Linked DNA regions of Homo sapiens: region 1 is linked to region 2. A link means that fine-mapping ties the variant in region 2 to the expression of a gene that starts in the linked region. Tissue or cell type: whole blood. Region 2 holds a variant in brackets; the other region holds the start of a gene. All regions are shown on one strand. Distances are from middle to middle.

Region 1 (4,318 bases), 310 kb before region 2:
ACAAGAGTGAAATTCCGTCTCAAAAAAAAAAAAAGAGGTCCTTTTCCTTCTTTAGCCTCAGTTTCTCTGGCTGAAAAACAGAAATGATAAGTGAAGGCCCAGATAATTAAATGCTTGGAGGTGAATCCAAGATCCACCTCCAGATAATTCCATTGAATTATCTTGGATACCTTTTTGTTGTTGTGTTTTGTTTTGTTTTGTTTTGTTTTGAGACGGAGTTTCGTTCTTGTTGCCCAGGCTGGAGTGCAATGGCACCATCTCGGCCCACGACAACCTCCGCCTCCTGGGTTCAAGCGATTCTTCTGCCTCAGCCTCCCGAGTAGCTGGGACTACCGGCATACACCACCACACCTGGCTAATTTTTTTTTTTTTTTTTTTTTTTTTTGAGACAGAGTCTTACTCTGTCAGCCAGGCTGGAGTACAGTGGCGCCATCTCGGCTCACCGCAAGCTCCGTCTCCCGGGTTCACGCCATTCTCCTGCCCCAGCCTCCCGAGTAGCTGGGACTACAGGTGCCCGCCACAACGCCCGGTTAATTTTTTTTTTTGTATTTTTAGTAGAGATGGAGTTTCTCCACTTTGGTCAGGCTGATCTCAACCCCCAACCTCAGGTGATCCGCTCGCCTCAGCCTCCCAAAGTGCTGAGATTACAGGCGTGAGCCACCGTGCCTGGCCTATCTGGGATATCTTGAAGGATCTTGGATTTCTATTTCTACATATACCTGCCTTTCATGACTTGCCTGGGGAGGCCCAATCTGTAATGAGACCTCAGGGTCTCCCAGCCCTTCCCCCAACCTACCCCCAAAACCTCTAAGAGCACTCTAGAGAGAATCAGCTGCATACAGCCCAGCTCCACCGCTCCAAGGGTCAGAGAAAAGTCCCCTTCCCTGGGGTTAGCTGCATGATCCTGCAGGTGCCATGGTGTGCCTAGGTGCCACCTCGCTTCACCTGGCTGGGGAGTGGCTCCTAGACCTCAGCTCAATGCGCATCACTTCCCCTTCTCATCAGCCAGGCCAGCCCAGGTATCACCTCCAGCTCCACTGCCCCCAGATGGAGTTACCTGAGTACCCAATTCCTCCCAAGCTCAGAAACAGTGTCCACTGCCTTCCCACTCCTTTCCATTCAGAGTCTGTCCCCTTAGTGCTGCCCCCTCATCTGTCACACCTGGGTTCTTTCCCTTACTTGGGCCACTGACCTGAGAAGCAGGGTCTGTACAGCTCCAGCAACACTCTCCTCTTCCTCCAGAATTCTCCAGATCCTCCTCAGCTTCTTGGCTCTGGTGCTCATCTCAACACAGCAGGGTCTTCCTCCATCAGGCCAAGGTGGGGGTAGGAGAAGAATTGGGAACAGGGACTCCCCTAGGTTCTCAGGGTACAGTCAGTCAATCTAAGCCTGTATCCAACAAAGACACTGACCCCTGGGGTACAAGGAAGGGCTCCAGGCCCAAAGGCAGGAGGATTAGGCTTTAGCTCTTGCTCACAGCCTGCTGAGACCTGGGGCAAGCCCCTGTCCCTCTTTGGGCCCTCAGGTTTGCAATTTGCAGAATGAGGAAATGGGTTCCTCAATCTACAATCACCTGACTATAATAATATTTTGCCTTTATATACCGCGTGGGTAAATTCCTGAAAGTAAACTAAGCTGTTTTCACCCCTGGATCTCATTTGATCCTCCCAACAGCCTGTTTGCATTTACAAATGAGAAAGCTCAGTTCCCTAAGGGAACAAAATTACCCAAAGTCACACAGCAAGCTGGAAGCAGAGCCTGGGTGCAGTCCTTGAATCCTGATCCTTCCCTGGTCCTTTACTCTCTATGATGCTGGAAATCTGCCTGACTTCCTCTAACCTGTTGTCCCATTTGTAAAAGGACTGTTGTGAGGACTGAATTAGGAGAGGCGATGAAGAGGGTCATTCCTTGTGAATCATAAAAGAAAGGACCACAGAACGATGACTGGACCGTTAGGTTACTATTTATTACGGTTATCTTCGCTCAGGCGCCCCCACGTGTCGATCCCGAGACTCTCGGCTTGCGCAGGCGCTCTTTGGTGTTTACAGCGGCCGCGAAGCCCCGCGTTTGCGCGTGCGCTTCCCGCCCGGGACCGCCCAGAGGTCCCGGACTAGGGGCGGACTAGGGGCCGCTCTGCCTCCCGCCCCCTAGTGGTTGTGGCCGCTCTGTCACCACGGCTCCCGGGGCCTCTGTCGGCTCCACTTTGGTTGAGACGTCTCCACAGCCCAACAACGGCGGCGATCTGAGGAGAGGCAGGAGAAAATACGGCGCGCTCGGCATCGTCCTTCTGACCGGGGACTCCAGCATCTCAGTCATCGCGTCACCAAGCCCCACGTGCAGGTTCTGGCATCCATCATGGCAAACTGGAGACCGCGGTGAATTCCACCGGAATGGCGCGCGCATTGCCACATGGGAACTGTAGTTCTTGGCTAGGACCTTTCTGGGGCTGGGCCGCTGGAAAAACTACATTTCTCAGGAGCTCAAGAGTCAGGCTGACAGAAAGGGGGCCCGCGGCATGTTGGGAGATGGAGTTTGGGGGGTTCGTGCTAGCAGGGAAACAGTGAAGCAATGGAGCCAAGTGTTCTGAGCCTGGGCCTGTGGGTTTGAGTTGGGCAGGAGTTACACAGTAGCTCTTATAAGAGAGGAGTAGCATTGTTGCGGCTTTTAGAAAGAATGCTACTTATTAGTTGTGTGATCTGAGCGATCAAGACAAATGCCCCTTTATCTTTTTTATTTATTTATTTTTTGAGACAGGGTCTCTGTCTGTCAGGCTGGAGTGCAGTGGCCCCAGAACTGCTGGCCTCCCGCCTCACCCTCCCAAAGTGCTGGGATTATAGGCGTGAGCCATCAGGCCTGGCCAGATGCCTTTTTATCAACTACGATGGACCTTAAGGTTAAGGTTAAGGAAACAAACGTTGCCTACCTCAGGGCTCAGCTGTCAGCTGGCATGGCAACTTCTTAAATTTCTACTGCTGCCAGAAAAACCACACTCTTACTAAACCCCTAGCAATAGGAGCTATCATGCAAATTGTCAGACTCTTCTTTACTGAGATTTACAACTCAGACCACTACAACGCTGATCGACAGAGGACAGGCCTTACAAACATTCTTTCCTGATAAGTAACTGCAGACCTCAGGCCAGTTTCAGCAAGCTCATAGAGACTGCACGCAAACTGTGTTTGTGTCCTATAGTCCACCTTATGATGCAAAGAACCAAATTCCACCTCACTTTAACGCAAAAACCCCATCCCAAAGTGAACATGGAACATATGTTACAGGTGTTTACCCATTGTGCATGCACTCACATCCCCTCATAAATATGTATAGCTTTTCCCCAAAACCTGCTGAATATGTATGATTATTGTGAAATACAGACCCTGTGAGTCATAAACCAGCCTAGGCCGGGAGTGGTGGCTCACGCCTGTAATCCCAGCACTTTGGGAGGCCAAGACGGGCGGATCACGAGGTCAGAAGATTGAGACCATCCTGGCTAACATGGTGAAACCCCGTCTCTACTAAAAATACAAAAAAATTAGCTGGGTGTGGTGGCGGGCGCCTGTAGTCCCAGCTACTCGGGAGGCTGAGGCAGGAGAATGGCATGAACCTGGGAGGTGGAGGTTGCAGTGAGCCGAGATCGCACCACTGCATTCCAGCCTGGGCGACTGAGCGAGACTCCGTCTCAAAAAACAAAAACAAAAAACAACCAGCCTGCCTTTTCCCTATACAAAGAGAGAGCACCTTTGGTACCTACAGGAGAGTGTCTCTTTTCAGTTTGCAAACTGATGTCGCTAATGAAACTGCCCTCTACTATTTAGGCATCCTGGTGTTCTAGAGGGTAGCAGTCTGCACCTCTCACAGGGCTTCCTCTTCCATCACTCCTCAGAGACTGTATTCACAGGGGTCACCTGTGTGTGAGATGCAGTTTGTCTTTTTTGGGGGGAGGGCAGGGGCTGTTCGTTTGTGGTTTTTTTTTTGTTTTTTGTTTTTTTTTTTGAGACGGAGACTTGCTCTGTCATCTAGGCTGGAGTGCAGTGGCATGATCTGGGGCTCACTGCCAGCTCCGCCTCCCGGGTTCATGCCATTCTCCTGCCTCAGCCTCCTGAGTAGCTGGGTCTACAGGCACCCGCCACCACGCCGGGCTAATTTTTTTTTTTGTATTTTTTTAGTAGAGATGGGGTTTCACCGTGTTAGCCAGGATGGTCTCGATCTCCTGACCGTGTGATCCGCCCACCTCGGCCTCCCAAAGTGCTGGGATTACAGGTGTGAGCCACTGTGCCCGGCCTTGTTTTTGTTTTTTTGAGACAGGGTCTCATTCTGT
Region 2 (4,720 bases):
AGTGTTGGGATTACAGGAGTGAGCCACCACACCTGGCCAAAACTTTACTTACTTATTTATTTTTGAGACAGACTCTCGCTCTGTCACCCAGGCTGGAGTGCAGTACCGCAATCTCATCTCACTGCAACCTTCACCTCCCGGGTTCAAGCCATTCTCCTGCCTCAGCCTCCCAAGTAGCTGGGACCACAGGCACGTGCCACCGCACCCGGCTAATTTTTGTATTTTTAGTAGAGACGGGGTTTCACCACCAGGCCAGGCTGGTCTCAAACTCCTGACCTCAGTGATCCGGCCTCCCAAAGTGCTGGGATTACAGGCCTGAGTCACCGTGCCTGGCCAACTTTACTAATTGAAAGCAAGAGAGCTATAGTACCAAATGGTGAAAATCTATATTTTACAATATAGTTTTACACGTTTAAATGAATGCATTTATTTCAAAGCAGCCTATCAACAGACCAAGCCACAGAGGCTGTCATGTAAAAACAATAATAATCCCTGCTAGTAAAGTACTTCAAGTTTTTCAAAGTCCTTTCCCATCTTATCCTACCTGACTTGACAATAACTCTATAAGGTAACCAGAATAGGTTATTCCCATTCCATAAATGAGGAAAGTACAAATCAGGGCAATTAAAAGACACACATAAAATTGCTACTAAGTAGCTCTGGTTAGGTGGGGGGAAGACTTAGGAAAAGAACCTAGTATCAATTTCATCTAAGACTCTTTCCACAATAATGTGCTATAAAAGGTGGTGATAAAAATGAAGCCAAAGATAAAGAGAATAAGGACAATGAAACAGGATAATAATCATTTACATTAGCTCCATGCTTTATCACACCTTCCCTTCCACTGTCTACAGTACACCCTCTATATAAGACACCACCATGCCCCAGAATCTACCAGGCTCTTTATTTGGTAACATTACTTTCCTAGGGAAGAACTCCAAAAGAAAGATAACTTGGGAAGTGAAAAGGGAATAGAGAAGAAATCATAAGATCTAAATCTTTCTAATCCTAACATTGGATAAGTATCTTTACTACTCTAAGCCTCAATTTTTACATCTACAAAATATACTTACTAGGCAGTTCTGAAGATTAAGTAAAATAAATGGATATAAAAGTCCTTTGAAAAACATAAAGAACTCAATAAATATTTATTATTAGGCTACAAATATGTGGTACAAAAACTCACAATAGGTGTCTTACATAATTGTGTTAATAAATTCAAATTATACTAATTATTTTTAAGTTTTACATAATCATACAAAAAATGAGATTTTAAAATATTTGAATAAATGGTCTATGGCAGAATTAACCATAATATTTGAATCTATTAAGTCTGAATGAAGAAAAAGCATTGTATTTCAGGTCTCTAATAAATCTGACAAAGTATCTGGTAAATAAGATACCTATAGAAGATACCTGGCAGAAGCAAGGCCTCTATCTTCACAGGTCTGTATACAAGCTAATATTTGCATCCAAGGATTTCCAGAATTATTCAGAATCATAAAATCAGAGAACTGGGATGAACTTTAGAAATTATGTGGAGAACATCTGTGGTTCACAGAAAAAGTAACTGAGGCCAAAAGTAAATAATTAATTTTACAAAATCTTGAAATTTCCCTTATTGGACCTCGGAGGAGTTGAGGGGAGAAACATAAAAGGAGGACTGCTTTGGCCAAGGAGTTCGAGACCAGCCTGGGAACATAGTGAGAACCCATCTCTACAAAAAGCACATGAATTAGCTGGACATGGTGACATAAACCTATATCCCCAGCATTCGGGAGGCTAAGGCAGGAGGATTGCTTGAGCCCATGAAGTCAAGGCTGCAGTGAGCTGTGATGGCACCACTACACTCCACCCTGGGTGACAGAATGAGACTCTGTCTCCAAAAAAAAAAAAAAAAGAAAAAGAAAAAAGAAACAAGAATTTCCTCCAGTTAGGCTCTTAAATCAGTATTCTGCTTGTTAAAGAACCCTGAAGTGCAAACTGTTACAGGAAGTGAAAGAATCCCTGCAACAGGTCTGAATACTACAACTTTAAGCAAAACAGTAGATAAGAATTTAACATTGTTGCAGGGTCATGAAACTTATTGATAAATAAATACAGTAACATAACATTTCCATAAAAAATGGACCACATATACAAGTGGGGTCCCCAAAAATTAGAATACCATATTTATGCTGTGTTTTTTCTA[C/T]GTTCAGAATCACAAAAACTTACCATTGTATCACAATTGCTTAAAGTATTCAGTACAGTAACATGCTGGACAGGTTTGTAGCCTAGGAACAACAGACCAGAGCCTCCATGTGCAGTAGGCTACGCACTCTAAGTTTGTGTAAGTACATTCTATGATGTTGATACAAGGATGAAATTACCTAATGATGCATTTCTCAGAATATATCCCTGACATTAAGCAACACATACCTGTATTGTGGAAAATTAAAACTCTACCACCAGATATCCTGGACTCGACTTTTTAAAGCCCACTTCACATCTCTATTATTTTTTGTTAGAAAAGCTATATATATATATATATTTTTAAATGGAGTCTCACTCTGTCACCAGGCTGCAGTGCAGTGGCGCAATATCGGCTCACTGCAACCTCCGCCTCCTGGGTTTCTTGATTCTCAAGACTCTCCGCAATTCTTGAGCCTCAGCCTTCTGAGTAGCTGGGATTACAGGCATGCGCCACCATACCCAGCTAAGTTTTGTATTTTTAGTAGAGACAGGGTTTCACCATGTTGGCCAGGATAGTCGATCTGACCTTGTGATCTGCCCAGCTCGGCCTCCCAAAGTGCTGAGATTACAGGCATGAGCTACCACACCTGGCCATTTTTTTTATTTTTAATTTTTGTAGGTATACAGCAGGTGTATATATAGATGAGGACATGAGATATTTTGATACAGGCATGCAATGCGTAATAATCACATTAGAGTAAATGGGGTATCCATCGCCTCAAGCATTTACGCTTTGTGTTACAAACAATCCAATTGTCACCCTGTTGTGCTATCAAATACTACTTCTTATTCTAATTGTTTATACCCATTAACCATCCTCACTTCCCACAAACACACACCCTCACTACCCTTCCCAGCCTCCAGTAAACTTCCTTCTACTCTCGAGTTCCATGAGTTCAAATGTTTTCATTTTTAGCTCCTACAAATAAATGACAACGTGCAAATTTATCTTTTCTGTGTCTGGCTTATTACACTAACATAATGATCTCCAGTTCCATCCATGTTGTTGCAAAGGACAGAATCTCATTCTTTTTTATGGCTGAATAGTACTCCACTGTGTGTATGTACCATGTTTTCTTTATCCATTTATCTGCTGATGGACACTCAGGTTGCTTCCAAATCTTGGCTACTATGAACAGTACTGCAATCGACATGGGTATCTTTTGGATATATACCCAGCACTGTGATTGATGGATTGTATGGCAAGTGTATCTTTAGTTTTCTGAGTGAACTCCAAATTATTCTCCATAGTTGTTGTACTAATTTACATTCCCACCAACACTGTCTGAGGGTCCCCTTTTCTCCACATCCTTGCCGGTGTTTGTTACTGTCTGTCTTTTGGATAAACGCCATTTGAACTGGGGTAATATCTCATTGTAGTTTTGATATGCATTTCTCTGATGATCAATGATGTTGCACCTGTTCAAATGCCTGTTTGTCAATGACTTCTTTTGAAAAATGTCCACTCAGATCTTTTGCCCATTTCTTAATCAGATTATTAGATCTTTTCCTATGAAGTTGTTTAAGCTCATTACATATTCTAGTTACTAATCCCTGGTAAGATAAAGAGTTTGCAAACACTTTCTCCCATTCTGTGGGTTATCTCTTCACTTTGTTGATTGTTTCCTTTGCTGTACATAAGCTTTTTCACTTCATGTAATCCTATTTGTTCACTTTTGCTAGGTTGCCTGTGCTTGTGTAGTATTACTCAAGAAATCTTTGCCCAGTCCAATGCCATGAAGAGGTTACCTAATGTTTTCTTTTAGCAGTTTCATAGATTGAGATTTTAGATTTAAGTTTTTTTTTTTGTTTGTTTTTTGTTTTTGAGACGGAGTCTCGCTCTGTCGCCCAGGCCGGACTGCGGACTGCAGTGGCGCAATCTCGGCTCACTGCAAGCTCCGCTTCCCGGGTTCACGCCATTCTCCTGCCTCAGCCTCCCGAGTAGCTGGGACTACAGGCGCCCGCCACCGCGCCCGGCTAATTTTTTTTTGTATTTTTAGTAGAGACGGGGTTTCACCTTGTTAGCCAGGATGGTCTCGATCTCCTGACCTCATGATCCACCCGCTTCGGCCTCCCAAAGTGCTGGGATTACAGGCGTGAGCCACCGCGCCCAGCCTAGATTTAAGTTTTTAACACAATTTGATTTGGTTTTTATATATGGCAAGAGACATGGGTCTGGTTTCATTCTTCTGCATACGGATATTCAGTTTTTCCAGCACCATTTATTGAAGAGACTGTCCTTTCCTCAATGTATGTTCTTTGCACCTTTGTCGAAAATGAGTTCACTGTAGATGTATGGATTTGCTTTTGGGTTCTCTATTCTGTTCCATTGACCTGTGTGTCTGTTTTTATGCCAGTACCATGCTGTTTTGTAGTATAATTTGAAGTCAGGTAATGTGATTCCTCCAATTTTGTTATTTTTGCTCAGGATAGCTTTGGCTAGCTATTCTGGGTCTTTTGTGGTTCCATATATATTTTAGAATTGCTT

Evidence for each region. PIP is the estimated chance that this variant, and not a neighbour inherited with it, causes the effect.
Region 1: STARD10 starts here. The variant in region 2 is fine-mapped to the expression of STARD10 in whole blood (TOPMed, PIP above 0.99). The same link has a PIP of 0.9 or more in blood mononuclear cells.

The regions. Positions count from the first base shown.
Region 1 is chr11:72,791,683-72,796,000 of GRCh38, forward strand. It overlaps STARD10 (StAR related lipid transfer domain containing 10), which reads right to left and starts at 2,365. Exons shown (of 7, transcript NM_006645.3): 1 at 1,193-2,365. RefSeq lists enhancers at 490-989, 2,121-2,690.
Region 2 is chr11:73,104,523-73,109,242 of GRCh38, forward strand. The region is part of intron 2 of FCHSD2 (FCH and double SH3 domains 2); the gene reads right to left. Among named protein-coding and RNA genes, the nearest start is that of FCHSD2, 35 kb to the right of the region's middle. The variant C/T (reference allele first, on the strand shown) is at 2,192.